Linked DNA regions of Homo sapiens. The protein of the gene in region 4 purifies or fractionates together with the protein of the main gene of each other region. This does not show direct contact. Each region holds a gene or a part of one and is shown on either strand. Other genes may lie near its edges. The genes, in order: ZBTB34, RFX3, RFX2 and FOXN3.

Region 1 (7,000 bases), on a different chromosome or scaffold from region 4:
AGTTAAATTTCTAATGGTTATTTTCTGGTTGATGTTGATGGCAAGGAAAACCTCATGGAAGAATGCAAGTCAAGGTGAGCTTTTCTAATCCTTTTGTCATAAGAGGCAGGACTTAATGTATTTTCCAGGGCCAGTGCCCCTGAAATGCTAGCCAGCAGTAAGCAGATAAGATGCTGTGCCTTACTATTTTTTAGTTATTTGCCTTAAGAAAGCTTATTTTATCTGAAACAAATCCTCTCAATTAATGATTAAAATATGAAACATCTTTTTTCCTACTTCACTGACAGAAGTAAAAATAAGGGACATTTTGCAAAGAAATGACTGCAAACCACTTGAAGTACAACATATTGTGACCCCTTAATCATCACAGTGTCAGACCCAGCCTGACTTTGTCTGTGTGGTGGAACATCCTTAAATGAGAATTCTCTTTCTACTCGGAGTTGATCAGTAAGAATCCAGCACCAATAAAAATCCTGCATCTCACCAGTATGCCTGGATTAAAATCTTACTCTTATAAGAGATAAGAGTTCTGAGTCTGAGACTGACAAATCTAGGTCCAAATCCTGGCTCAGCCAGTCATTAGCTGAGTGACCTTGGGTAAGTTTCTCAGCCTCTCTGGGTTTGCTTCCTCGTCTGTAGAATGGGGATAACTGCAGCCTCTTAGTGTCGTCTAAGAGCTTACTTACCATACTGTACACAGTAGGAGCCTACTGACCGTTAGTCCTTGTCATTGCTAGTAAAATTAAAGAGGCCATTCCTCTCCTGCTTGGAAAGCTCAGAAGAAGCTTCTGATGATGTTTTGCATTGACTAAAAGACAAATCGCACCCTCTTGGAATTAGTGTATCTGAGCAGACCTGGAGAATGTTAACGCCTTGGTAGGAAATGTAACAGTTTGGATAAAAATGTTCTTTCAGGCTCACATGAATTAATGCAGTAAGAACTCTAAACTTGTTTTCTTTTAAATTAGGATGAGTGCTTCATGAATATCCATCACAGAATGCCATTTTATTTATTTTTTTTTTCTTGCATTGGGTTTCAGTAGCACCAGAATGTTTCACACAGCCCTGGTGTTATTTGACTGCTGCTTTCTAAAAGATTAGATTGTAGCTCATGACAGCTCAATTTTGGTTTTAATCTAGACCCAGGCAGAAATACCTAGAAAAGTTATTTTTATATAATTGTTACTTCTGTTACCATGCCTTTTGTCTGCGGTGCTTCAGTCTGTGGTCTTTTTAATGACTTTGTATGAAAATGAAAATTAGGGATCTTCAGGTTTCCAGTGCCTGCCAGAGAAAGCCTCGTTTGAGCTGTGTCTCAGGTATCAGCAAATGACTGAAGCCAGCAGGTGCAAATCTGGGTTTGGAATCATGAGCATCTTGATTGAGAATAATGGGTACCTCCTGGTGCCTTAAACAACTTCCAAATTTGTAACTTTCCTTTCTTTTCTTGGAAGTGTAACTGGATATTTTTAAACAAAGTGTAGCATCTTGTGGAGCAAATTAGACTGTTTATGGGTTAGGTTGGAATAAGCCACCGTGCTAGATTTTGCTGTGGGCAGAGACGATCCCGCATCTCTGGGGTCTCCAGAAGGAAAAGTTCAGAGCTGAGGGTGCGGCTGTAGTGGCAGTCCATGGATCTTGAGCCACCAGCTTGTTTTAGTTGACATGTACTGAGAGCCTCTCTGCCCCAGACACACTGCTGGGCTCTGGGCACGCAGTCCCTGCCCTCAGAGAGCTCACCGCCAGGAGTGGAAGCTCAGCAGTGAGGAGTCTCACAGAATCAGCACATTTCTAATTGTTCAGCTTTTACATTTTTACTTTTGTTCTGGTTGTTGATATGTGGAGACAGTTCCAAGGCTTTATCCAAGAAAGTTGTAGAGGAGATTTTAAGGCCCAGGTGGGTGTTTTGCCCAGATGGCATCTGAGAGTCCCTTCTTATTTTTAGGTTCTCTGCAGAATGGGTCAGCAGTGTGAGAGGATGTCATTAGTTTTCCATTGTTGCATTTCCTCACAGCTTAACAGAATACGTGGTGCAGAATTTTACTTAAAGATACTAGCCAATGGGGCCGGGCGCAGTAGCTCATTCCTGTAATCCCAGCACTTTGGGAGGCTGAGGCAGGCGGATCCCTTGAGGCCAGGAGTTCGAGACCAGACTGGTCAACATGGTAAAACCCTGTCTCTACTAAAAACACAAAAATTAGCTGAATGTGGTGGCACATGCCTGTAATCCCAGCTACTCAGGAGGCTGAGGCATGAGAATCACTTGAACCTGGGTGGCGGAGGTTACAGTGAGCCGAGATTGCACCACTGCACTCCAGCCTGGGCACAGAGCAAGACTCTGTCTCAAAACAAAACAAAAACAAAACTAGTCAGTGGAAAGGCTTGAGGAGAGGGCTAGGTGAGGATGTTACCCCCTTCATCAGGTGCTGTGTTTCCATTCCTCTTTTCTAGGAGCAAACACCCTTTCTATTCTCAGCCTTCTCTCTTTTTTTTTTCCCTCCCCGAGTAACCTCATTTTACCAAAACGATCCTCAGTCAGTACACAGTCACTCCCAAATCAGTATCTTCGGGTCTAATATTTCTCTCTAGCTCCAGCCCCATATTTCCCACGACCCCGTGAAAAACCTGAGCCCAGCTTGTCCTGGCTGAGCTACGTGGCCTCCGAGTAGACACCATGCCTCAGTCTCCAGGTGCTGCCGCCAGAATTCTGTTTGAGTTCTCTGAGTATTCAAGGCCCTCCACCTTCTGACTGTGGCCTTCTCCTTCCATGGCCTTCCTTGTCCCTGAGCTGGGGCCACTGCATGCTGCCTGCTCTACCCCAGACGCTGTTTGCATTCCCCTGTGCCCTGTTCCTGCTTTTCCTTCTGTCTGGAGTGTTCTTTTTTTTCCCTTTGAAATGCAAGGCCTTGTTCAAAAATATCTTCCTCCATGAAGTTTTCTTTTGTTCTATTTTGATTTTTTAAAAATCTTTTTGGTCAAAAGTAATCAGCCTTGTATTGTTCCTTGTAGTTCTTCGTTTCTGCCTTTATAACTGTCTGCTTGATGTAATAATTATCCATTTGCAGCCCATCTTTCTACTCTAGATTCCTTGGTTTAAAAAATTATATATTTGTAGGTACTAACCTACATGGCTTAAAAAAAAATTTTAGTGAGAATAATAGTTATGTGATTTTTTAAATGCAAAGGTATAAAATAAAGTCTGTTTCCCTTCCCTCTCCTTAGTCCTTCCCCACAGTGACCACCATTAATAGTACCACGTGGTTCCTTCCAAAATGGATACAGCAAGCAACGTAATATAATTCCTTTACAAAACGTACATGAAGGGAATGACATATATGCATACATATTAGTCTACATCTTGCTGTTTTTGGCTAAATCTTAGCACTCCTTCCATATCAAAGCATACAGATCTACCCACTCTTCTTAATAGCTGCGTAGTATTTCATTGTTGATTATATTTTTTGAAACCAGTTTCCTTTGGGGGTTCCTTTTTTTTTTTTTTTTTGCTATAGCAAAGAAAAATTCTTAGTGGTTGTTCTCATATGTCTCTCTTACACTTTTGTAGGTCCTATATATTAGTAGGCTTAATTCCTCCCCGTTACTTGTGGACCAAAAGGTAAATGCCTTTTACATTTTGATAGATATTACCAAATTATTCATTCCTGAGGACTACACTTGCCAGCTCTTTTAAACTGTGTGCAAGGCTGATGGGTTAAAAATGGTATCTCATTATTTTTTCTTTTTGTATTTCAAACGTCTTTAATCAGAAGTAAATTTTAGCATCTTTGCTTCTTTTTTTGTCATTTTTCTTTTTTTTTTTTTTTTGAGCTGTTTGTATCCTTTGCCCATTCTCCCATAGGGGTTTTTTTTGTGTATGTCACCTAATTTGATTTGTAAATTAAGGAATTTGGAAAGTAGTTCTTTGTCAAATATGCATATATTTTTCCTCAATATATCATTTATCTTTTGGCTTTTGGCGAAAAGGGGTATTTTTTTTGTCATGTACTTTTACGTTGTCGAATGTATTTGTCTTTGCCTTTGTGGCGTCTGAGATTTATGTCATGCTTGGAAAGGCCTTTGTGTCAGTGTTATAAATAAATTCACCCATGTTGTCTTTCATTTTTTTGTTTTTTTTTTTTTGGTGATAAGTCTTTTTAAAATACTGGCATAGGAATAGAGTGGCATTAAATGGAAAGTAATAAGATCCTCCATACATTCCTTGGTGCTTTATAAGAAATTGGTTGACATGTGACACCTTTGAAAATTCAAAGGAGCTGTGTTTGCCATTGGTGGGCCACGGTATTTTATGTGACCCTCTAATGTTACATATAAGGGCAGTTATTGCCTTTTTGCCTCTTTTACTAACTCAGTGAGGGTGGGGAGCTGAATGGAAGAGCAGGGGCTTGAGTTACTGGTTTCTGTTCACCCTTCTCAGCCTCAGCCGTGAATGTGACATGATGGTCGCTTGCTCTTCCTGTTTTTGTCGAGTGGCTTTTTGTTCTTAAGCCCCTTTGGGTAAAATGCGTTAACCTGGATTGGGGGGTGTCTCTCCCTTGTGTGTTGTTGCAGAGCAGCCTCTTGCTGTCCTGATGCATGGGCGCAGTGATGGATTCTGTAGCTTTTTTGAGTGGGATCTTGCGAAGATGTCAAGCAGCATTACTTACCAAGCCTGTCGTCATATGGTCTCGCATCAGACCTTAATTTTCTTTTCAGCGCATCCATGCCTGCTTATTTCCAGAGCCCCCGCTTTGGCTTTGGACTTCAGGTCTGTGGGAGGAGTGTCCCAGGATGGCTCGTGCGGTCATTTCCAGGCAGTGCCGCTCTCCCTGTGGCTTGTACCCACAGTGCCTCACTGTGTGAGTGTCCTCCTGCTCTGGTTGCCCAGCCGGCCATCACTCCACAGCGTGTGTTCATTTCTCCCAAAGCTGCTCGCCTTCAGCTGTGCTCACCTTTGCAGTGTGGCTTCCATGTCTGCCGTCCTCTGGTGCTTTCAGACTTGGCTTCGTCACTGCTTGGTCAGTCCTGGAGGGCCCCTCACAGTTTGCTGTTGCTTTCAGGGCGCCGGTCTCAATGCTGCTTTGAATTCTGTTGAACTTGGGCTGAACCCTGTGTCTTCTTGGCAGCATCTGCTCTCTGTGACTTTCACCTTCAAACACCAAAAGGACCGGTTTACTTGAGCCCTAGATCTGTGGTTTCTAATTAATTGAGGCTTTCGCATGTAAAGATAGCTTTTTATTTAAAGCAAGTAGAGTGAGCCAGGGTCCGGGGCTCTGAGGAGGAAAGGGGGATCAAAGCTGTGAATATGGAGGGCATGATACACGGTGGCCGCGGGGCCCACCTGGAACATTCTTCTCCTCATAACCCTTCTGCTAGTGATTCTGGTCTAGAAAAGAGGGAGATTTTGCTCTACAAAGAGGGTGCTTCACTAAACTCCTACAGCTGAAATTGCTTGGTCACAGCGAATATGCAGATGTAATCTTGATGGATATTACTAAAATGCCCTCATTTGCCCTTCTCTATTCTGGGCAGCAATAGGGAGGATGTTTGCCCACCCCCACCCCCCACCCCATCTCCATCCCTTTCCTTGACACTGTCCTAGGGCAGGAATGTAACACAGGTCCAGCTCGCTAGGGATAAGGGGTTGTTGTATAGGGACCTAGATACGCACACTTCAGAAGGGTCCTGGGAAAGTCAGCTGCTTGGATCCTTGGTTTCCTCATCTTTAAAATGGGAGTCATTGTACCTGCCTTAAGGGGCAGGTTGGGAGGATTCAGAGACATACTGCGTCCTAAGCCTTACTTACGACATGCCTGGCATGTATTACACATTCAATAAAAGCTGGTCACGGATGATGACGGTGGTGGAGTGACTCTGCCAAGTAGAGGGGGAGGCTGAGGGGTGTGGCAGCAGGGGCAGTCATCCCCTTTCACAGCAGCCCAGGCTGGTGTGGGGGCGGCTGGGTGCCTGGAAGTAGGAGAATGTCGGTCCTGCCCACATCAGAGGTGGTCCTTCCCAGAAGCTACCTGGGAGACCAGTGGTGGCCTTGTGTGGTCACGGCAGAGGCTGTGTGTGAGGTGAAAGCTATTCCACAGGTGTGAAATTATTCTCTTTCTTTGTAAGAAAGTAAGATTTTGGAAGTAAGAAATTAAAGAAATTGAAAGAGCAGAAAGATTGTCTTTCCATTGATTGAGTGAACAGAAGAGACCTGTGAAGAAGTTGAGGAGGTGACAATTTTGAACTTACCAAAAAACCATTTCAACAAAGTTCTATCCATGTGTATTTTTTAAAAGAAGTATCTCACATTCTTTTTCCAGAGTATAGTTTTTATAAACAAAAACAGAATTTTTGTTAAAATACGTATCGATACTGAAAATAAATCCAGCTTGTATGTGCTTGTTTTTTAAATTAAAATAATAGCAGTGTAAATGTCTAATTTGGGTGTGGTTTTTTTGCCTAGAATAATGTGACAGAAACACCTATGATTAATCTCCTGAATTAAAGAGTTCTGGTTCTGATGGTTTTAGTGAGTGGAATAATCAAATTCATTTTTGTTTTCTGAGGCAGCTGCAAACTTAATCTAAATGAAAAACTAATATAAATCACTACTCTGCATTATCAAAAATGAATTCCATTCCCATCTCTCTCTGAGTGGGGAGGAATCTGCATTAAGCCTCTATCAAACTGCAAGACTGGGACTTGTATTCATCTTTGAATTCCCTTTGGTTTTCTGTATGTAAGAGATTGATATTGAGTGAATATTTCCTATAAATGTAGGAAAAATAATTTAAATTCCCAGTCAGTGTGCCATTTAGTGATTGCAATTAAATCTAATACTTGCAGCGCATGACAAAAGGCTAATTTCCTTAATTTGCGAAGAGCTCTGACAAATCAATAAAAAAGGCAAATAAGGGCAAAGGATATGAGTAGGCAGTTCAAAGACAAACTTAGACAAATTGCCATTAAACATGAGAAAAGATATCAACCTCATTTATAATTAAAC
Region 2 (8,155 bases), on a different chromosome or scaffold from region 4:
ATTTTATATAAATGGATTCATATGCTATGTACTCTGTGTCTGGCTTCTTTTGCCAAATGCAATGTTTTTGAGATTTGTCCGTGTTGTATCAGCAGTCCTTTCCTTTGACTTGCTCAATAATACTCCATCGTATGACTGTATCACAATTTGTTTTACTCTTTTACTTTTTAAAGACAAGGTCTTGCTCTCACCCAGGCTGAAGTACAGTGGTGTGATCACGGCTCACTGCAACCTTGAACTCCTGGATTCATGCAATTCTCTTGCCTCAGCCTCCCAAGTAGCTGGGACTCCAGGCATGTGCCAACATGCTCAGCTAAGTTTTAATTTTTTTTTGTAAAGACAGAGTCTCGCTATGTTGCTCAGGCTAGTCTCAAACTCCTGGCCTCCAGTGATCCTCATGGCTTGGCCTCCCAGAGTGTTGGGATTACAGGTGTTAAGTCATTGTGCTGGGCCCACAATTTGTCTTCCCATCCTCCTATTGATATACATTTGAATTGTTTCCAGACTATTTTTTTTTTTTTGAGACCGAGTTTTGCTCTTGTTGCCCAGGGTGGAGTGCAATGGTGCGATCTCGGCCCACCGCAACCTCTGCCTCCCAGGTTCAAGCGATTCTCCTGCCTCAGCTTCCCAAGTAGCTGGGATTACAGGTATGTGCCACCACACCCAGCTAATTTTGTATTTTTAGTAGAGATGGGGTAACTCCATGTTGGTCAGGCTGGTCTCGAACTCCCGATGTCAGGTGATCCACCCGCTCGGCCTCCCAAAGTGTTGAGATTAAAGGCGTGAGCCACCACGCCCGGCCCCAGACTTTTTTTTTTAAAGCTGCATGTGTACATCAAAAGGTAATTTGGTGTTAAGCAAAGGTAGTCAACTTATGATTCTATAATCATCTTTCTGTGCTGGAGTAAAAATGTAATTCCAAGACATACACATGCACACAAACGTGTGTACACATAGCCACACACACTCTTCAGAACTGCCGAGTAATCAGCTGGTTTGTATTACTTAAAGAAAACACAGAAAGACAAATCTACCAGAAAAAATTATTGCACTGTTTTCAAAACCAAATCATACTTTAGGTGGGGATAGGGAGGCTTGAGGGTGCTCCAGAGAATAGTGGCAAATTATGTTCAGTTTTGAATTACCTTGGCCCCTATCACTCTCTTATCATTTTTAAATAATTATCACATATCCACAGAATTTCAGATCTAGTAAAGGGAATTAGCAATCGAGTAATAAAATTATCCAGTATTCCACATAAGTGCTCAATAAATATTGGTACAAATGAAACCATTCATTTTATATAAGAGAACCCAAGACTCTACATCTCTCTCTCAATTGAAGAAAATAGGATATAATCAAATGAAAAAATTTAAAACAGGTGTGATTTCTCTCATAAAAAGATTCACCACAAATTCAACAATAAGGTGCCACAGCATACATTACTTTTCAAACTCTCATACTATTTTTCAGAAGCAAGCCTATCACATAGCACTATTTTATCTTTTCATATGCATCCTTTCTTTTTTAAAGTATAATAATGAAATAACTTATTAGTCCTTGAATATGGAGTAGATATGAATAGGCAAAAACACTCTAATAGATAATACAGAAATCTACCACTACGAATGTGTTAAAGTAACTTATGAAATACACAATCTATATATATCATCAGGGCTTCAGATTTTTCTTCAAGTAGTTCAGATACAAATGTGTTATTCCATGTCTCTTCCAATCATTCTGATCGGAGAGAAAAAAACAATCCAAGTTAAAACACAACATTCTAAATTAATAGATAATGTTGAACATTTTACATTCAGGAACTATGTCTGCCCAATTTTAGCTTGGTTATGTACCTTTTTTTATTGATCACACAGTGTGTTTTGCACTATAATAGGTGATAACTGTTAGAGTGGTCCAATACTGGGTCTTTTCTGTGACTTCTTAGCAAATAATTTATTTCTGAAACATACATGCAACATATGTGAAGATGCATCTATGCAGCTTTAAAAAATGGCTAAAAAAAATCCTACAAGCAATAACTATGGGTTAAAAGGTTTCTGGGTTCTTTTGTAACTAATTACAGTATTAAACAATACATGCATATAAAATCCGTATTTTCGATTCTATAGCTTGAACTGGTATCTTGGTCATCTGATTCAGTGTGGTGGTGTATTTGTACCTTTTCACACTGCTATAAAGAACTGCCGGAGACTGGGTAATTTATGAAGAAAAGAGGTTTAACTGACTCACAGTTCTGCAGGCTTAACAGGAAGCATGACTGGGAGGTCTCACGGAAACTTACCATTATGGCGGAAGGCGAAGGGTACAAGGACTTTCTTCACATTGTGGCAGGTGAGAGAGGGGTAGTGGTAAATATTTTTAAACAAGCAGATCTCGTGAGAAGTCACTCTTGAAACAGCACTAGTGGGATGGTGCTAAACCATCAGAAACTGCCCCCAGGATCCAATCATCTCCCACAGGGCCCCTCCTTCAACACTTTCGGATTACGATTTCACATGAGAGTTGGGTGGGGACACAAAGCCAAACCCTATCAGGCAGTAACACTAACATTTCAAATATTAACCTCAATATGGTTAGAATTGTATCATCATCAAGTATCCTAAAACATGGGAAAATATTCTAAATTCTAAATTTTCAAGAATTAACTTCAGGAAATTTATCTATTCCTAACTCTGGAAAAGACCAAATCTGTAAGGCAAAAAAAAAAAAAAAAAAAAAAAAAAAAAATTTAAGCAGCTTAAAACTGATTCTATAATGTCCTAGCACAAGGGTTGCACTTATTTTTTAATAGTCCCTCGAAGTACCTATTTATACTCTTGAGATACAGTTTTGCACAAGGTTCACTATGTGGTTTTCTTGCCTGCAGATTAAGAGCAATAAATTAAAAGGGCGGTAAGGATAATAGAACTATGTTCACTGACAAAAATAAAAAGCAACAGCTGACAATGAAAGACGGGACAGGCAAACTATAACAGACAATGGAATTTAAAAAAACAAAGCTATTCAGAGAGCCATGTAGTGTGAACATACAGCCCTACACACCATTATAGGAATGAGGACTTTATCAGTAAATATAATAAAGAGAATATTCATAACGACTACCAGTTTTCATAAAGCTGGAACGTATACCTCATTTCCCATCTGTATGTCAAATGGGACCCACACTGGTCACCACACAATCATTTGTCTGACTAGAAGCCCTTACTACCACAGTGGGTCAGGAAACCTTTTAGCTTTAGCACTAGGCTCACCACTGTTCACTACTGCAACACATTATTATTGTAAGAACATCTCTAACTCATGAGATTATCAAAGGCAACAATATTACTTTTAAAAACGTACCCAAAGTAGCTGGTTCCTAAAACAAGGTAACCTTGTATTCTATGGCACGCAGCCATAAACTAAAACCACCGACTTTTAGGACTCTCGGCCTGTTTTTCCTCAAATGCGAATATTACCTAACACTGGTGTTGTTGGGATTACATGAGATAATGTATGTAAAACACTTAGCACCAGTTCTGGGACACAGAATGAGCTCAGTATTATTTTAGCGCTGGTGAACGCATGCCGGCCCAAATCCCTTACTTGCAGGTGCAAAAATTAAGCCTCAAGAGGAGAACTGACTTCCTAAGGCTCTACTTCTACTATGTCATTGTCCTGGTTAAGCAGCTTAGCGGCAAATGTTGGGAGATTTTGGGTATTGGCAGGGCCTGGGGGCATGTGCCTGCTGGACTCGAGTCTGCAGAGAATTGGAGGAGTCTGTTTGAACCATGAGGCATTACAGGCTGTGCCTTATCAACGGGTGTTTGAGATGGCAGGTTGTGTTAACAACATTCAACACAGACGGAAGCCATTCGTCTATCTCAATACAGCCACAAACAGCAAGACCCTCAGCTACAGTAGGCTGAGTAACGGGGGATGAGAGCACGGCAGGTAACAGGATCCGGGCTTGAGCTCAACTCCCAGTTCGGTCTTTAAAGAGGGGTGAGCACTTAAGGGCTGAAACTAACAGAACTAGAAACTAACAGGATGGTATCGCAGGCAGGTGTAAGCTACCCCGCCCCTCTACGCCTTCCGTCGAGGGGAACCGCCAAATGCGCTTTCTCAGCCTCCGGGCAGGGCAATTTCTTGCTCTCTACAGGCACTTACTCCCATCCCTTGTAGATAGGGAGTGATGACCTCGCTTTTTCGTTATGGAGTGAGGGCCGGACACGCTTGGACCTCACCTCTCCGCGCCACGCTGCGGCGGCACCGCGGGAGGCCGACTCGCGCCCACGCACACCCCACGCTCGCCTTCTCTAAGATGGCGGCAGAGGCAGCTCGCTCACGCCCCGCCGCCCGCGCTCCTCCACAAGTCGTGCCCTCAGGAGGCGGGAGCGGGTGAGAGCGCGGAAAGCAGGAGGGCGAGAGTGACGCGGACCCTCCAGTCTAGCGCAGGCCGCGGAGCCCTGAAGCGTCCAGGAAAAGGAAAAGCCAGGAGGCTGACGCTACCAGGAACACCGCCGGCGCCTCAGAAACTAAAAAGCGGCGGCACATCCGGGCCCCTCTGCCCGCCCCGCCCCGGAAGTAACGTATCGGGCAGGGCGGGGGCCGCTCTTCAAAGTGGATTCTTCCCTCGCCATAGCTCGTTTCTTCACAAAGTGCCTGGAATCACCCTCGCCACCCCCTCCCCCGGGTTAGCCGTTACTCTCTCGTGGCTCCGGGACGTCTCTGTACAAAGCTGGCTGCTGGGACAGGCAGCCCTCGTTTCACAGATAGTACCCCTCGCACCACGACTCCTGGGCCTCGCCAGCGCGTGTAGTAACGTCCCTCCGAGAGGACTCTTGGTGACCTCAGCCCCAGCCAAGCATAGGCGCACCTCTTCGGAGTCCTGCGGTGGAATCCCGGCCTCGTGCCCCGTCACCCCGCCGCCCCGCCACCCCACCCGGGTTTGGGGGCCGTCAGTCACAGCGCTGCGCCCTCCCCTTCCGGCGGCTTGGCCGGGCCCGCCTCCTCCCCTCTTCCCTCCCCCACCCCTCCCCGTGCGAGTGTCTCCCTCTCCCTCTCGCTCTCTCTCTCTCTCCCTCTCTCTCTCTCTTTTGTGAGTTATAGCAACCGTTGCCTTGTGAATCAAGCGCCATAGTCACCGTAGTCCTGGCGACTGTTACCCATCAACAACAACTACTCCTCTCCTCCTCCTCCTCCTCTTCCTCCTCCTCCTCCCCACCACCACCATCTCCATCACCCACCAACAACACCACAATAATCCACAGCCAAGGTGAATATTCTTCGGTCTCTACATGTGTGTGGGAGCGTGTGGCTGCGTGTGAACGCGTGTGTCCGTGCGTGTGTGTGTTCGTGTGTGCGAGCCGAGTGTGGCTGTGCTGGGGTCTCACTCCTGACACGGGGGCTGCCGCTGCGGCGCCGCCGCCGAGGGGCTCTGTTCCCCGGGCTTGTTTACAATGGACCCTGCGCGCCGCGGCTGGGTCGGGGGTGTGGGCGCCGCGCCGCCCGCCGGCCCCGGCCCTGCGCCGGCCGCACTTCAGGGATGGAGCGGGAGCTTGGGGGGCTGCGAGCCGAGCGGGAGAGGGAGCCACAGTTTTCCGATGCGGATGCTGGATCTTTCCCTTAGGTCTGGTCTGAGGAGGAGGGTCAGGTGAAGAGATAAGAATTTGTTCTTTCTTTAATTTTCTTCTTTTCCAACGCTGCTGTTTCCTGCTTCTTTCAAAGCCGAAATAGACAACAGTGTGCAAGGGGGGGACCCAAGAGGTGGTGTTTTGTTGTTGTTGTTGTTCACTTGTGGGGCCTTGTTATGGGTTTTGTTATTTTTAATCCTCATACGTTGGTGAACTTTTCCCACCGCCCATTCCCTTCATTTTTGCCCCTCTTTGCCTGGTGCTGAATGGGCTGCTCTTCTTTCACCATCATCAGCTTCATGGTTTTCTTTTTTCTTTTTAAAACTGTATTTTCTTTGTGCGGCAAACAGTCTTAACATCCATTCAGCACTCTTCCCTCCCCCTCTTTCTCCCCCCCCCCACACACCCCTTGCACACATATTGAAACCTGGGGCCTGTTCGTTGGGCCCTCTTTGCTGTACTGGGAAAGATGTTTTTCTTTTTTAAAGTCTGTCTCCTCTCTCTTCTTTGGTGTGTGTGTGTGTGTGTGTGTGTGTGTGTGTGTGTGTGTGTGTGTGTGTGCTTGTGATTTAAACCGGATGCAGGGCATCTGTGATACTTGGGTTAGTAGTTATTGACAGTGCTTTATCCTTCATGTGGAGGTGGGAGGGGGAGTAGTGAGGTTCCGTTTCACTTTGATGATCCTCCTTCCCCGCAGTAGAGTGTTAACAATTTTCATTGTGATTATGAGACTTTGTGATGAACAGGGAAGGGACACAAGGAAGCTTTGTGAGAACTCAGTTCACAGTGTTATTTGTGACAGTTATGGTACTTTAAGAGTTTTTTTTTTTTTAATCTCCTCATTTTCCTTTGAGAGTTGAAATTCAAGTCAAGTTCATAAAGAATGTATGAAGGTTCTCAACTTGAAACGTGTGTATATTTCACTTTCTTTCTGGTTAAGATCTAGGCATGTGTGTACTTAACATATTCTTTTTATTTACTTTTTGATTTTCTTTGGACAGTGACTTGAACCTGCTCAGGAGAGAGAACTTTTTCCTTTTTAAGTATTTCTTTTAAAAATTATTTTTCTCTGTAGATTTGAATACTTATTAGTCCTTATATAGTAGGTTCTTGGTTAACGTTAACCCAGTTTTACAGATCCCCTAAATTTGTTCATTTTTTTCAGCTTAACTTTTAGTTAATAGATTTATCAGTAGAGTTTTGATAATGAATGTGTGCTAAAACAAATATAATGTACTATTGTAGTTGCACATATTGAAGTTTTAAATTTACAGTTTTAAAATGCTTATTCAAATAGTCTTCTTTCTAACAGCAAACATATATTGATTTAACTGACACAGCAGCTTGTGAATAATGTGACAGTACTAATTATTCTTGAGATTGTCAACGAGCAGGGTGGGTAATTATAATGCTATTAAGGCTAATATTTTGTAAAATAAGAGTTGGGATTTTAAAAAAACTTTTTCAATTCATTTCCTTGTGATTGCTATTTTAAATGAAGACGATATTTTGTTCTGAAAGAAGTCTTTCTCAGAGCACTCAGATTTGTTTATAATTATTCCTCCTCTCCCCAAACTGGGTTCCATGCAAATCTCTAATACTAACTTGTATTTTTTTTTCTGTTCAGATGAGTGTCAAATGCCTGAACACTTTTGGATGGTGAAGCTCCTGGGTCCTATAAACTCTCTCTGAAGTTAATAGGAGTTTTGCTGTCTTGGGACAGTTTCAGACCTTATGCCATTTACATAATAGGTTTTCAGTTAAGTAAATTATATACTATAATGTTATGGTTTAATATTTTATTTACAGTGTCTGAGAACTTTTTTTGAGGCATTTCACTCATGTATAGCTCAGGTTTTCTGTGATTTAGATTTTCATTCACAAGTTGATTTGAGAGCAGAACTTAAATTGAATTTCATTACTTTTCCATTTTTTGAAGCATATATGTGGGATAAAATTGCTATTAGAGCTGCTGTGGAATTGATTAAATAATCAGAAACACTGAGAAATGGTAAATTTAAAAATTAAACACAAGGATAGATACTTAGCATTTACTTTATTCTTTCTTAATATTTTTCCTAGAAGGGACTATGTTATGTATTGATACTCTCTTGTGTTTTCAGTTTTTATACTAATAGAAATTTGTAAAAGTGATCATGCTTTGAAACTAAAACTATTAAATAGAAGTCACTTGTAACTTGTTTTGAATAGTCAAATGTCTGTGATTCAATGTATGTCATAATGCCTAACTCAGTCGTTTTGGTGTGTTTTGCCTATGAATTGTATTAAATGGTGTAGGCATCATACATATACACATATATGGCAAACTAATGAATTTCTAGAAGTTTTGCATCGTTTCACAATGTTTTCATTAAAGGTTGTAGTGATGGTTAGTTTTTTTTGTATTATTCCTCCAGTACTCAAATAGTCTTGTACTCTGCTTTGGTACTCAAATAAAAGGTTATAGTTTATAAGCTTACTGTGCTTTAACCTGGAACAGTTTATTTTACCCTAAA
Region 3 (7,158 bases), on a different chromosome or scaffold from region 4:
AAGGTGCATGTGCTTCCGTGTATGTGTGTGTGCATACGTGTGTGTGTGCCCACAATTCGTGCATATGTGTGGTGCATGGGCTGAGTGTATGTGCACACTTGTGTATGTATGTGCATTGTTTGTGTGCCTGCACGTACCTGCCGTGTGTCTGCCCAGGTCGGTGTGAGTGTGCAAGTCTGACCATCACCCCGCCGTCGCCTCTGATCAGTCCTGCCTATGTTTTAATAAAAAGCACATGAACAGACAAACAGCATCTTACATTCTGTGTGTATCCTCAGCACTGACCTCTGACAAGTCTAACTGGCCTTCTCTCCCTTCCCTTTTAGAGGGTGTTGGTCCAGGCAGCCAGCTCCAATCCCAAAGGGGCCCAGATGCAGCCGATCTCCCTCCCCAGAGTTCAGCAGGTACCCCAGCAGGTAATGACAAGCACCGCAGCACCGTGCAAACCGGGGCGCAGTTAGCACTCAGCAATCCAGAACAATCTCTGAAGGATGCATCCTTTTCTGTGGCTGCTGTTCCTTGTTGTAAGCTTCAGTTTCTTAGCCAAAAGACTTTTCCAGAAGCTGTGCAATTTTAAAAAAATCATTTACTGCAGATAGTTTTGCAGAAAGCCAAGAAAGCTGGTGATCTTTCGTTCATTCAGAAATTCAGCAAGCATTTGGGGAACCAGTGAGCACCCCGCACCTGCTGGGTGGAGCTCAGGTAGAAATGCAGACAGAAACAAAGGGCTCTGGACTGGAGGAACCATCTGCTAGTGAGTGCCATACCCTCAGATGCGGGCACAACAGAGGAAATGCTTCTTATGATTTCAATTATCTAAGAACAAAGTTTGAAAGCACGGCTGACCAGCCAAGTAGCAACACAGATCATCAGCTTGGGGACACTCTAGAAGCATGGTTAGCAAACTGTTTCCAGAAAAGGCCAAATTATACATTTTTGGGGGTTTGTGGTCCAGGCAGTCTCTGGAACAACCACTCAATTCTGCCATTGTATCGCAAAAGCAGCCATAAATGATATGCAACCAAATGGGTGTGGCTGTGTGCCAATAAAACTTTATTTACAAAAACAGGCAGTGGGCCAGATTTGGCCCTCAGGGCCGGAGTTTGCCAACTGTGCCCTGCAGAATCCTGAATTAAAGTTAACTCAGGCTCCTCCCTAAAAGGAGCCCTGAGGCCCTAGAGAATGCACCGCTCTTCAGGAGGGTCCTGCCTAGATTGGCAGTCTGTTCACAGGCATTTGTCAGGTGACTGTGTCCATGAGAACTAGGAAGGTTTGCAGGATCACAGGAAGGAAAAGGCTCCAGACAGGCCCAGCGGGGACGCAGGGCCTCAGGCCAGTGGCTCTGTCTTAGCTGCTGTCTGTCAAGGCACTCCCCAGAGACACCAAGGAGAGGAGATTCCAGAAGCTTCCACCACTTTTCTGGTGCTGGGCCTGCCCCAGCTCTTTCTGTAACTTCTGCATTTCACTTGGACCCCAGAATTCGACATTTGACTTCCACCCCTGGGGCATCACCCAACAGATGTTAACCCCTGGAACTTGTGATTCTGGGGGTGGTGCGTTGGACAAGTGCATACCATGCTCAGTGGTCCAAGGAGGGGCAGGTCAGCCCCATCCTGCAGCTTCAAGCACAAGAGGAAGGTCACCATGACACCATGACACCCGAACAAGCCCACTTCTGTGGCCCTCCATCTTCTCACCCCAAAATTCAGTGGATGTAGACAGCCACTAAGATGCCCTCTGGGGTGAGAGTTTGAAGTCCCATGTGCAAAGCGTTTGGCTTCCACTGCTCGGACTAGAGTCCCTCGGGGCCTGTCAGCCGAGGCTCTGAACTGATGTTTCAGAGAGGGGAGGGCAGGGCAGCGGGGGTGTGCTGGGGTCCCCCCATTGCCCCATCTCTCCAGGCATGCCGCTCCTTCCCACTCTGTTCAGACCATCACATTCTCTCCCCTCCTCTCTGCCAGGGAAGGGGCACCAGGGCCACCCACGGGGGGTGTTGGGGCCATGTAGAGTCTAATCTGCTCAGCCCCCTGTGCACTGCAGCCTGCACGCCAGCTTGAGCTACAGAGGGAGACCCTGTCGCAAAAAAACAAACAAACAAACAAAAAAAAAAAACAGAAACCAGGGACAGTCCTGTGAGCCAAGGCTGGGCCTCTGTCCACAACTCTAGTTTCCACTGCACTGGAGGAGCGTTGTCATTCTCCTGGTCCCGCCCCCACGTATACAGAGGAGCCAGGGCGCACAGACACGCTAGCAGAGCTCTGGGGATCAGTCGCAGCTCCCTGAACTGTGTGGGCCCGTTTGGAATATGTCGTCTGTACATTACTGTCTCCTCAGTGTCTTTCTAGGCGTGCCGACTGTGGGCGGGAACATTGTCATTTGGTACTAAATGTTCATAAAGGCAATAGAAGACACGTCTAGCTTGAATAATCTGCAGGCAACTCACGAGGGCGTGACTGGCGGTAACGCAGCGTATCCGATGTTTCAGGTGCAGCCGGTGCAGCACGTGTATCCTGCCCAGGTGCAGTACGTGGAAGGGGGAGACGCCGTCTACACCAATGGAGCCATGTGCGTGCTTCTCCCGCGGGCCACACCCGGAACCCTCTCCCTGACTCCAGCCTTTGCCACCTGGGGAGGCATCAAGCAAATTCCTCTCCCTTATGCTTTTGGCGATGTGTTCACTAAATACTGTTAAAATGCTATTAGGAAACTGGGCAATATCTCTACAAAAAATTTTAAAATTAGCCAGACATGGTGACAAGTGCCTAGAGTCCCTCCCAGGTAATCAGGAGGCCAAGGTGGGAGGATCGCATGAGCCCAGGAGTTGGAGGCTGCAGTGAGCTATGATCACGCCTGACTGATGGAGCAACACCCTGTCCAAAAAAAAAAGGAGCGGGGTGGGAGCTGAGGGATTAGGACATCATAACCCTGTGGAGATTTCAGAAATCACAGACTTTTGTACTTTTTACTTTTAGAAAAGATAGTCTTGGAAAAAAAAAAAAAAAGGCTAATCCTAACTCTTCATTCTGAAGTCTCAGTCTTTGAGATCCAGAAACCATCCACCCCTGTGTGTTTTCCCCTCGCCTCTGTTAAACTCCAGCTTTGTATAATGTTGATAGAACTTGATTTTCCATGTTGCAAGGATGTCTAGAGTTTTCTGCTCTGTAACTGTGTGATGCTTGGGGTAGGAAAGTATGCATCTCCCGTGCAGCTCACTTTACTTTAGACGTGAGTCCTTTCGCCTGCTTGTCTGTTTCCATTTGGCCTGGATGGCTCCCCTCACAAGTGCAGGGGCTGTACATGAGAACCTGGCTGTGACTTCAGGGTTGTGATTGGTGGAGTTGTATGATTCTAACCCCAGCCACTGTGGCGGTGCACACCCATCACCCCAGCTACTGTGGCGGTGCACACCCATATTCAGAGGCTGAAGCAGGAGGATCACTTGAGCTCAGGAGGCTGAGGCTGCAGTGAGCTATGATTTTGCCACTGCACTCAAGTCTGGGCTACAGAAGGAGACCCTGTCTCAAAAAAACAAAACAAAAAAACCCCTGGAAATTGACATTGGGGTAAAACTGTTAACTAGCCCACAGGCCTTATTCAGTTCTACCAGTCTGTATGCACGTGCTTTTGCGTGTGTGCTTGCATGTGGAGTACATGTGGCTTTGCATGTTCATGTGTGTACCCTTGCATGTGCGTGCGTGTCTATTTCTTTGCATTTTTAGCCCATGTGTAGATTTGTGTAACAATACCACCATCAAGATACAGAACTGCTCCATCTCCACACAGGAGCTCCCTCATGTGACCCATTTATCCACTTACAATTTTAAGTTTTATTTGTATTTATTTTTTTTAAGAGATAGGGTCTTGCTCTGTTGCCCAGGCTAAAGTGCAATGGTGCAGTCACAGCTCACTGTAACCTCAAAGTCCTGGGCTCAAGCAGTCCTCCCACCTCAGCCTCCTGAGTAGCTGGGACTACCGGCACGCACCACCACACCTGGCTAAATCTTTTATTTTTTGTAGAGATGGTTCTCTCTATGTTGCCCAGGCTGGTCTCAAACTTCTGACCTCAAGCAATTTTCCCACCTTAGCCTCCCAAAGTGCTGGGATTACAGGCGTGAGCCACCACGCCTGGCCTAGAATTTTTAAGTGGTCACTTTTTGATAAGTCAGCCTGTGGTCCTAAAGATTTTGCAACATGGTGGCTGTGAACTTGCGCTGCATTTGAGTGTCATATGCCACGTCCGAATTGCTCCATATGTCTGGCCTCTCTGGGTTGCAGCTTTTACGTGATGTTTGGCTGGATATCTGTGAACTCAGACAAGGCATTTAAATGGGACAGCGTCCCATGCGTGACTTCTCTCTTTCTAACAGACGAACAGCCTACACCTACAACCCCGAGCCTCAGATGTACGCCCCCAGCAGCACGGCTTCTTACTTCGAGGCCCCAGGCGGTGCCCAGGTGACCGTGGCAGCCTCGTCCCCGCCAGCGGTCCCCTCCCACAGCATGGTGGGCATCACCATGGATGTCGGGGGGAGCCCCATCGTCTCCAGCGCGGGAGCCTATCTCATCCACGGGGGGATGGACAGCACCAGACACTCCCTGGCCCACACCTCCCGCTCATCGCCCGCCACGGTATGTAGGAGGCTCTTGGGACCAGCAGGGTAGGCCATGAGTATTCTCGAAGCAGCGGCAGCAGGGATGGTGAGTAAGAGGCAGCCGGAGGCCCGGAGGGGCTGTCGTCTGCTCTGGGCCCAGGCGGCCCCACGATGGAGTCGGGCCAGCCTCAGACGGGCCACGCAACCATAGGCAGGCCTGCAGAGTTCTTTGAACTTCAGTTGGCCATTGGTATAAAGAGGAGGACAAGCCATGCGTCATGGGCTGTTGTGAAAAGGGAATGAGTCAAGCATCTCTCCACTGGTGGATGCTGCAGCCTCCTTTGCTCTTATTATTGTTATCGTTGTTACTATCAAGCTTTTAGAGGCGTGGATCAATCCATCCATGAGACACCTGGACTGAATCAAGCAGGGGAAGTTTCCCTGCAGCCTCTGCCGAGTTCTCGCTGCCATGCCCCGATGCAAAATAACGACTTATCTGCTTTTCCAGAGTCTCTACATTTAAAACTCGATTACCCGTGTTTACTTTTCATTTATTTTCCTTCTTAAATTAACACAAAGTAAAATCAACTTTTTGGTGTACAGCCTTGTGAGTTTTGACATGGGTAGATTTGTGTATAATCAGGTCACAGAACAGTGCATTGCCCTGAAAACCCCCTCGTGGTATTTCTTGGCAGTCACAACCTCCCCCATCCCCAGCCCTTGGCAACTGCTGATCTGTTCCCTATTGCTGTAGTTTCATCTTTACTAGCGTGGTGTATAAATGGAATCGTACAGATTGTGACCTTTTCAGACAGGCTTCTTTTACTCATTCTGGTGCCTTTGAGATTCAGTCAAGTTGCTGCATGAATCCGAGTTGCTTTTTTTTGTTACTGAGTAATATTCTATTACACTACAGTTTGTTTATTCATTCACTAGTTGAGGGCCATTTGGATGGTTTCCAGTTTGGGGTGATTATGAATAAAGAAGCTCTAAGTTTCACATGCAGGCTTTTGTAAGGACATATGTTTTCTTTCTTTTGGATATATACCTACAAGTGGAATTGCTGCTGGCTCATACAGAAAGTGTATGTTTAACTTTATCAGAAACCACCAGTTTCCCAAGTGGTTGCACCATTTTGCATTCCCACCAGCAACATACAAGAGTTCCTCTTGCTCCTCTCCGTCAGCAGCATTTGATGCTGCTGGTGCTCTTGGTTTTGGCCATTCTAATAGATGTGTGGTGGTACCTCATTGTGGTTGCAACTTGCATTTTCTTTATAGCTAATGATGGTAGCAGCTTTTCATGTGAGTGTAGATGCTCTGGTCAGGTGTCACTTCAAGTCATTTGCTTCTTTTTTAACTAGGTTGGTTGTTTTCTTATGGTTGAGTTTTGAGAATTCTTTATGTATTCTGGATACAAGTCTCCTGTCAGATATGTGACTTGCAAATATTTTCCCCAGTCTTTAGTGTGTCTTTTCATTCTCTAAAAAGTGTCCTTTGCAGAGAAAAAAAAAATTTTAATTTTGATGAAATCCAACTTATCAATTTTTCTTCTGTGGCTCATGCTTTCAATGTCATGTCTAAGAACTCTTTGCCTATTTGCACATTATGAAGATTTTCTCCTGTTTTCTTTGAAAAGTTTTATAGTTTTACTTTTGTTTTGGGTTTTTTTTTTTTTTTTTTTTTTTTCTGAGACGGAGTCTTGCTCTGTGACTCAGGCTGGAGTGCAGTGGCACCATCTTGGCTCACTGCAACCTCCACCTCCCGGGTTCAAGCGATTCTCCTGCCTCAGCCTCCCGAGTAGCTGGAATTACAGGTGTGTACCACCACACCCGGCTAGTTTTTGTGTTTTCAGTACAGACAGGGTTTTACCATGTTGGCCAGGCTGGTCTCGAATGCCTGACCTCAAGTGATCTGCTCACCTCGGCCTCCCAAAGTGCTGGGATTACAGGCGTGAGCCACCGCGCCTGACCATAGTTTTACATTTTACATTTAGATCTGCTTCCTATCAAGTTAACATTTGTATAATGTAAGGTTTAAGTTGAGGTTCATTTTTTTTTGCTTATGAAACAATGTGTTGTTCTAGCCTCATTTGTTAAAAAGACTACCCTTTCTCCATTGGATTGCTTTAACACCTTTGTCAAAAATCAGTTGGCCATATGTGTGTGGGTTTATTTCAGAGTGTCCTATTCCATCCCATTGGTCTGTCTGCCTATCCCTTTACAAGTAGCATAGTCTTAATTACTATAGCTTTATAGTAAGTCTAAAATTGAAGAGGATGGTTCCTCCCACTTTATTCTTCAGTATTGCGTTGACTATTTATATAAACTCAAAGTTTCTGTATAAGTTTAGATCAATTTATCTATATCTACAAAGAAATGCTACTGAGATTTTGACTAATTTGCACTGAACCAACTTGGGGAGAATTCCCATCTTTACTATGTTAAGGCTTCCAATCCATGAACATGGTACGTTTTCTCCATTTGTTTAGATCTTCTTTCATCAGCATTTTGTAACTTATACAAAATTCTGTACATGTTTTGTTAGATTTATATCAAAGTATTTCA
Region 4 (7,158 bases):
CATAACTAAATTTCTGGAGCAGAGATGGACTTTTGGGGGTGTCTCGGCCCTCTTTTTTTTTTCCCCAAACTTTAGAAATCTGACACAGTTAAATTCATTTTTAGAAGAGAATGCACGTGTTCTTCAATGTTGACGCTGAAAAACAATGAGATTCTCATTTTATTGGTAGTTTGGGTATGAAAATTGTAATATTGTTGTATCACCATAACCTGGTAATAATATGTTCATTTTGCCTATCAAACATAATACAAGTAAGATTGAAGTGCATTTTATGGAGTTCTACTGTCAGTATAATATTTAAGGCTGGCAAACAGTCAACAAATGAGAAGCTTTTAAAAATAAAGAAGTGATAATAGCTATACATCTACTTATTGCAAAGTACTTAATAATTCTCTATTAATGCCTTTGTATTTTAATTTTCTTTGCAGAGTATTGGGAAAGGGTCGTTGTGGTGCATAGACCCAGAGTATAGACAAAATCTAATTCAGGCTTTGAAAAAGACACCTTATCACCCACACCCACACGTGTTCAATACACCTCCCACCTGTCCTCAGGCATATCAAAGGTAAGCAATTCAGACTTCTTTTTTTTGGTCTACTGAAATGGCATTATTTTGGCAGAGACCTGCGCGGAAATTAATTTAATAGGCCGTACGAGATTTTAAAAATAACTGCAGGTAAATGAGAAAGAAATTAAGTATTATTAGGAGGCATATCCACTGTTGTATTTCCTACAAACCTTACCGCTGCTGCAGCGTCAGAGGAATGTGCTTCCAGAAGGCTTCATGGTGGGTGAAATCATGTCTTCCTGGGTAGAAACATTTACAAAGAAAAGTCGACAGCTTTCACATCTCGGTGTGTGTCATGTTTTGTTGGGATAAAAGTACAGGAACGAGTCAAGCAGGCAACTCCATCATCCCCTCATCTGGCCGGTCTCTGCAGACATTCAGTGGAGGCTCACTCAGTTGTCCCCACTGTTGTCTTTCGCAGTCTCCATGTAGACGGTGCTCCCAGGTGACCATTTTGTTGTGGTTACTTGGTCTTTGCTTCTTCAAGGAGAACAGTAGAAACAATAGAGACATTTTATCCTCCTCACATGCCCATTTGTTTGAGACAGTAAGGTCATGGGTACCATTTTTACAAATATATCATTGGAAGGGAGGGTAAGTAGCCTGTCACTTTTTTAAAAAGTGTCTTAATGTTAGATTCCAAAAGAGAGCCAAATAATCAGAACCAAATTTTTAAGATCAATTTTTATGAATACATAGTACTTGAATTTGAAGTGCATTCCTCAGTTCTACAAAAAAATATTTAAAAATGTATAGAAATGTTTCTATCGTAACCACCTAGTTAAGAGGAATTATCCTTGGACTGCAAGTTGAGGTTAATTAGGGATGGCATGATGTCATAGACTTCAGGAATTTTACAGTCCACTTCTTTGCAGATTCTTTTCCTAGTCTGCTGTTTGTTCTGCAGGAGGGAGCACAAAGTGATCTTCTGAAATAGCATTAATGAAGTTCTTCTGCATCTCAGTTGAGAAGCATTCCATCACAGGCCCTAGACAATCAGTCTTCAGCAAGAGACAGGGAGGAACAGCTGGGCTCTCTGAGAAGACTGCTGTATGTCTGCCTTTGCTAGGCGATTAGCGTGATGGTACCCATAGCAACTGGAGCGTCTCCATAGTAACGCGTAGCCGAGACAGGTGCAGTTGCATCACAAGGCTGTTTGTTGCCTGGCAAAAGGACAGGCCATTAGTACTTAGATATACACTGTTGCCTTAGAAACAAATAACCTTACATAGCAACTACAGTTGATTTGAAAGGTTTGGTGTGTGGGGGGGAAGGTTGTAGCAGCTTTTGTCTGTGTTCATAAAAATCAGTGGAAGCATACTTTATTCGAAATGACAACTTGAGGTCATATAGCTGTAGGAGAGAAAGTGGGATTTTCCAAAGCAGCCCAGCCAACATAGTAGACATGTCCAGAAGGACAGAGCCATATGCTTGGTTTTCTCCTTGTGGCCATAGCCACTCCCCAAATGGAAGAGAACCAGGATTGGAGTGGAGAATTGCCGATGTACAAGGTTGGTGAAGGAGGACGTGACACTAATTATTGAAATATTTCCCAGATTCTCATGTTTCTTTGTCATTCTACCCCCACCCCCCGACTCTCCAAGCTGCATGGAATACCCTTCTCTGGGTTTTCCACTCTGCACCTCAGAAGTATTTCATCTCCCTTTGCTTCTAGGAAGTTAAGAACATGAGTGTTACTCACTGGGTCATGTCATTGGTTCCTTTAGACCAGTATTTTGTTGCCAAATGTGACCCCGAGGGAAACACAGTAATTATTTAATAATTCGAAGGATTATAGAGGAGCTCTGGGGGTTGGAACAGGAATGCATATTCAGGCGAGAGGCATTCTGAGCTGGCCTTAGCTTAATGACTTCATTTGATTTTTAATATAGACATAAAAATGCAGATGAACCAGAGCTTTTGTAATGAAAATCATTTCCGAAGGAATATTTCAGACCCCACTCCGTCACCTCCAGCCTTTATCCCCAGTTGACTGAGGGGGGAAAAAAAACCAGTTTCTGCTTCTGCCCATGCGGTGCTTAGATTTCACCTCCACAGAGGTCACTGGCGGTGGAGGGAGATGACAGATGAGATTCTAGTCTGCCTCTTCCATGCCTTAAGTCCATGAGAACAAGTCACTTTCTCTTTCCTGGGGACTGTCATCCCTTCATCTGAAAGCTGAGAGTTTGCTTCAGGATCCTCTAGTGTGTGAAATTGCACTGAAGCCACTGAACACTGGGTAATTGTACAATATTTCTGTGTCTTAACAGTGATGTGGCATTTGGTTCAATTCTAAGCCATCAGGCCACTTGTTGACATGACCTAGAGAAGATGGAAGTGAAACACCGAGTCATTAAACAGGGACCCCAAAATGCCGAATTGACGTGATCTGGCTGGGTCCACTGTGATGCGGGGAATCACCCGTCAGCCCCTTGCTGGATCGCTGTGAGGGGTACCTGGGAAGTGCTTGGCTTTCATGGGGCTGGTACTTAGCATCCTGAAGAAGATGGTGATTATACTAGATGGGCGGTTATTGCTAGGACTTGCAGGTGTGCTTGGCAAATGTCACTCTGAACTGAGCTGCAGGTGGCTGGAAATGCTGCGGGAAAAGCGAGACATTTGAGAGCACTGCCCAGACCTTGCTCACATCCAAATACCATGCTAAATATTGAGATGTGTAGACCCGTGCCTCTGTTTTCCTTTTTTGCTTTTTTTTGAGACGGAGTCTTGCTCTCTCTCCAGGCTGGAGTGCAGCGGTGCAATCTTGGCTCACTGCAACCTCCGCCTCCTGGGTTCAAGGGATTCTTCTGCCTCAGCCGCCTGAGAGTAGCTGGGACTACAGGCAGGCGCCACCACACCCAGCTAATTTTTGTATTTTTCGTAGAGATGGGGTTTTACCTTGTTGGCCAGGCTGGTCTCAATCTCTTGAACTCATGATCCGCCCGCCTCGGCCTCCCAAAGTGCTGGGATTACAGGCGTGAGCCACCGCGCCCGGCCCATGCCTCTGTTTTCTAAAGTGCCCTTTTGAATGTATGTTAGGATGTTCTTCCACACCTGCTTTGTTGATACCAAATTTGTGAATTGTTTTTAATCGAAGTGCAGAGCTCAGCGTGGAGTACTTCAAACCAAGTGACTTAAACAACAGAAACTTACTGTCTCAAGGTTCTGGAGGCTGGAAGTCCGAGACCAATGTGTCGGCAGGGTTGGTTCCTTCTGTGGGCTGTGAGGGAGGGTCTGTTCCACCCCTCTCTCCTAGCTTCTGGTGGTTTACTGGCATTTTGCTGGAATGCTTTTGGCCTTCCTTGGCCTGTCGAAACATCACTCTGATTTCTGCCTTCACCTTCACTTGGCATTCGTTTTCTCCATGTGGTGTCTATGTCCAAATTTTCCCTTCTTGTAAGGACACACTGGTCGTATTGGCTTAGAGGCCCATCTTTCTCCCGTAATAATTCATCCTATTTAACTAATTACATTTTCAATGGCCCTGTTCCCAAATAAGGTCATGTTCAGATGTACTGGGGGCTAGATCTTCAATGTAGGAATTTTGGGGAGGCATAAATCACCCCATAGCAACCCTTTTCTTAAGGGAGACATTTTGCTGATGAATATATGGAGAAGCAGAAAGTAAGGAAATATTTAAAGAACAAAATGGTGGGGTGGGGGGCAGGGGTGTCAAAGGGATTCGCCTGAAGTTGCTCCTAGTAGCCAAAGCTGGGACGGTGATGAGCAGCAAAATAAATAACATAGTGTTGGATTATAACTGGAAATATAAAATAAATACCTATGAGTCCAGACTGATAGAAATAAATGATTGAATAAATAAACAAACAAATAAATGAGAGAAGAGACACAATTCCCATTCAGAGGGTTCCAAATGCTTGATGTAGCTCTTTCTCCACTGAAAGAGGTGGGACGGAACTCTCCACTCCTGGAATGGCTGCACTTAATGACCTACTTCTAAAGATGAGAGCATGGAAAAGGTTGGAAAAGGGAGTTTGGAGTGGACAAACCTGGTGAACAGTATGCCACAGGTGATGAAAGTACCATCCTCAGTGATGTGATGTTGATACCGGGTACCTCTCGTAGGACATCATAAATTTGGCACTTCAGCTTTGTGGTCTTTCTCCCCAAACTCATAACCCCTGTCTAGTCATGGGAAAAACATCAAACAATGATTTTGTCCTTCAGCAGGGACATTCTACAAAAATAACTTGATCCTCACTCCTCAAAGCCCCAAGGTCATCAGAAACAGGGAAAGTCTTAGAATCTATTACAGACCAGAGGAGACTAAGAAGACATGATGAGCAAATGTGTCCTATGATGTCCTGGATGGGATCCTGGAACAGAAAAAGGACATTAGGGGAAAATGTGCAAAATATGAATTAACTGTGCAGTTTAGTTAATAGTAATAGTAGTATGCTGCATGTTTATAGCAGCACAATTTGCTGCTGCAAAGATATGGAACCAACCTAAATGCCCATCAACCTATGAGTAGATAAGGAAAATGTGGTATATATACACCATGGAATACTACTCAGCCATAAAAAGGAACAAAATAATGTCTTTTGCAGCAATTTAAATGCAGCTGGAGGCCATTATTCTTTTCTTTTATTTTTTGAGACAGGGTCTCACTCTGTCGCCAGGCTGGAGTGCAGTGCCGCGATCTCGGCTCACTGCGATCTCTGCCGCTCAGGTTCAAGTGATTCTCCTGCTTCAGCCTCCCGAGTAGCTGGGATTACAGGCACCTACCATGAAGCCCTGCTAATTTTTGTGGTTTTTAGTAGAGACGGGGTTTCACCATCTTGGCCAGGCTGGTCTTGAACTCCTGACCTTGTGATCCACCACCTCGGTCTCCCTAAGTGGGATTACAGGCGTGAGCCACTGTGCCCGGCCTGGAGGCCGTTATTCTAAGTGAAGTAACTCAGGAATGGAAAACCAATGGAAAACGTATGTTCTCACTTATAAGTGGGTGCTAAACTGTGAGGAAGGAAAGGCATGAGAATGATATAATGGACTTTGGGGACTCGGAGGGGAGTAGGGGGAAGGTTGGGAGGGGGATTAAGGATAAAAGACTATCTATGGGGTGACAAGTGCACTAAAATCTCCGAAATCACCACTAAAGAATTTATCCATGTAACCCAAAACCATCTGTACCCCAAAAACTATTGAAATAAAAAAATAGTAGTATACCAGTGTTGTGACAAGTGCCTTATTAGTAATATATGGTGTTAACATCAGGGAAAACTAAGTGAGGGGTATGCAGGAGCTTTCTGTGCTATCTTTGTAACTTCTCTTTCCTTTTTTTTTTTTTTAAAGCAGTCTCCAAAATGCAGACTCATTGATCAATTTTAGATATCCCGATTGTTTTTGGTAGAATGAAAAGTAAAATCACTGCAGCACTGAGAGTTGCCTGACCTACTTTAGTGAAGAGCTGATTGTGAAGGGCTCTTGCTTTTGCCTCATTCTCTGGAAGATCTGCTGAGCCACACGAGGGGTCTCTTTGTAGTTTGGATACTACAGTTCTTGGAACGTTAGTTTTGTGAAATGGCACTCCACTGTGCTTTGTAGAGTACCCGTGGCTGAGCTCGGGCTACTCATGCACACCGAGCCACGCCAGCTTGCTTGGGGAATCTACACCTTTGCCAAGGAGACTCTGGCGTGGGGCCTTCGGAATCTAGATCTGGAAAGTGGAAGGAGGGGTGGTGTGTTTGGGTTGCTTGCCCGTACCTCTTCGGAAAAGTCCACTGAGCTGTTCTAATCTTTATGTTGCCTGTGCCCCTCCTTCCTAGATACGTCATTTCTCATTAAAGAATATGCGTATTTTAATGTTTCCAGTAGACATTGCCAAATTGCCTTCTGATTTTACACTCGGTTCTAGTCCACATTCCCACCAACTTTTTAGGAAATTTCTATTTTTCTAACCTTTCTCAATGTCTGACAGTTAAATGAAAAGACAGTTCCTCAATGGGTGACCTTGACTTTGTGATTTTGGTACTTATAGTGGGGGTATTTAAACTTCGTAACACTACATTAACACCCTATAAACAGCAGCTCTCCCCATAATAATGTTTATGACAACAGATTGTTTTTAGAGAGTGACATATATATGGGTCTTATGTAATACCTTCTCTGCTATAGGCACCAATCCAAAGTCAGTTTCCAGAAAAACATTTTAATCCTCTCTCACCATGGTTGGAGAACAGGTTTTGCATTTAATCAAACAGTATGGTTTATGGAGAGTTTCCTGGATGATTGGTTTTCAGAGCCAGCGTTGTTTTGTGTTTCCTTGGTAATTCCAAAGAAATCCCAGCATCCTACGTACCTTTGGCCTCCATGATGGATTGACCATGATTGGGTGTTAGATGGTCAGAAACTGAGTGAGATGGTTTTTTTTTTTTTTTCTTTAATGAGCTTTCCCTTTTTTTGCTTTAAAATTTTCAATGTAAAAATAATGACATCATAGTCTATATTTCATGTAAAGTATTGTGGCTTAACATGTACAAAGTTAGAAAAATCCACAAGACTCATTTGCTGATCTAGGTCTAAAGATTTATTTTTTGGATGACTATAAAATTTGCAGAGTTAGAACA

What was found.
Region 1: the proteins of FOXN3 (region 4) and ZBTB34 purify together in Homo sapiens (affinity purification with mass spectrometry; 2 studies listed by BioGRID and IntAct, with this or other methods). This does not show direct contact.
Region 2: the proteins of FOXN3 (region 4) and RFX3 purify together in Homo sapiens (affinity purification with mass spectrometry; 2 studies listed by BioGRID and IntAct, with this or other methods). This does not show direct contact.
Region 3: the proteins of FOXN3 (region 4) and RFX2 purify together in Homo sapiens (affinity purification with mass spectrometry; 2 studies listed by BioGRID and IntAct, with this or other methods). This does not show direct contact.

What each region holds. Positions count from the first base shown.
Region 1 is NC_000009.12:126,863,639-126,870,638, forward strand, and holds part of ZBTB34 (zinc finger and BTB domain-containing protein 34), read left to right. Parts: exon of another isoform or gene 1-54; coding exon of another isoform or gene 55-74; intron 75-7,000. UniProt on the Homo sapiens protein: May be a transcriptional repressor.
Region 2 is NC_000009.12:3,522,873-3,531,027, reverse strand, and holds the start of RFX3 (transcription factor RFX3), read left to right. Parts: upstream 1-5,026; 5' UTR 5,027-5,281; exon of another isoform or gene 5,282-6,526; coding exon of another isoform or gene 6,527-6,548; exon of another isoform or gene 6,549-7,398; intron 7,399-8,155. UniProt on the Homo sapiens protein: Transcription factor required for ciliogenesis and islet cell differentiation during endocrine pancreas development. Essential for the differentiation of nodal monocilia and left-right asymmetry specification during embryogenesis.
Region 3 is NC_000019.10:6,037,451-6,044,608, reverse strand, and holds part of RFX2 (DNA-binding protein RFX2), read left to right. Parts: intron 1-326; coding exon 327-416; intron 417-2,485; coding exon 2,486-2,565; intron 2,566-4,367; coding exon 4,368-4,629; intron 4,630-7,158. UniProt on the Homo sapiens protein: Transcription factor that acts as a key regulator of spermatogenesis. Acts by regulating expression of genes required for the haploid phase during spermiogenesis, such as genes required for cilium assembly and function.
Region 4 is NC_000014.9:89,344,079-89,351,236, reverse strand, and holds part of FOXN3 (forkhead box protein N3), read left to right. Parts: intron 1-428; coding exon 429-565; intron 566-743; exon of another isoform or gene 744-950; intron 951-7,158.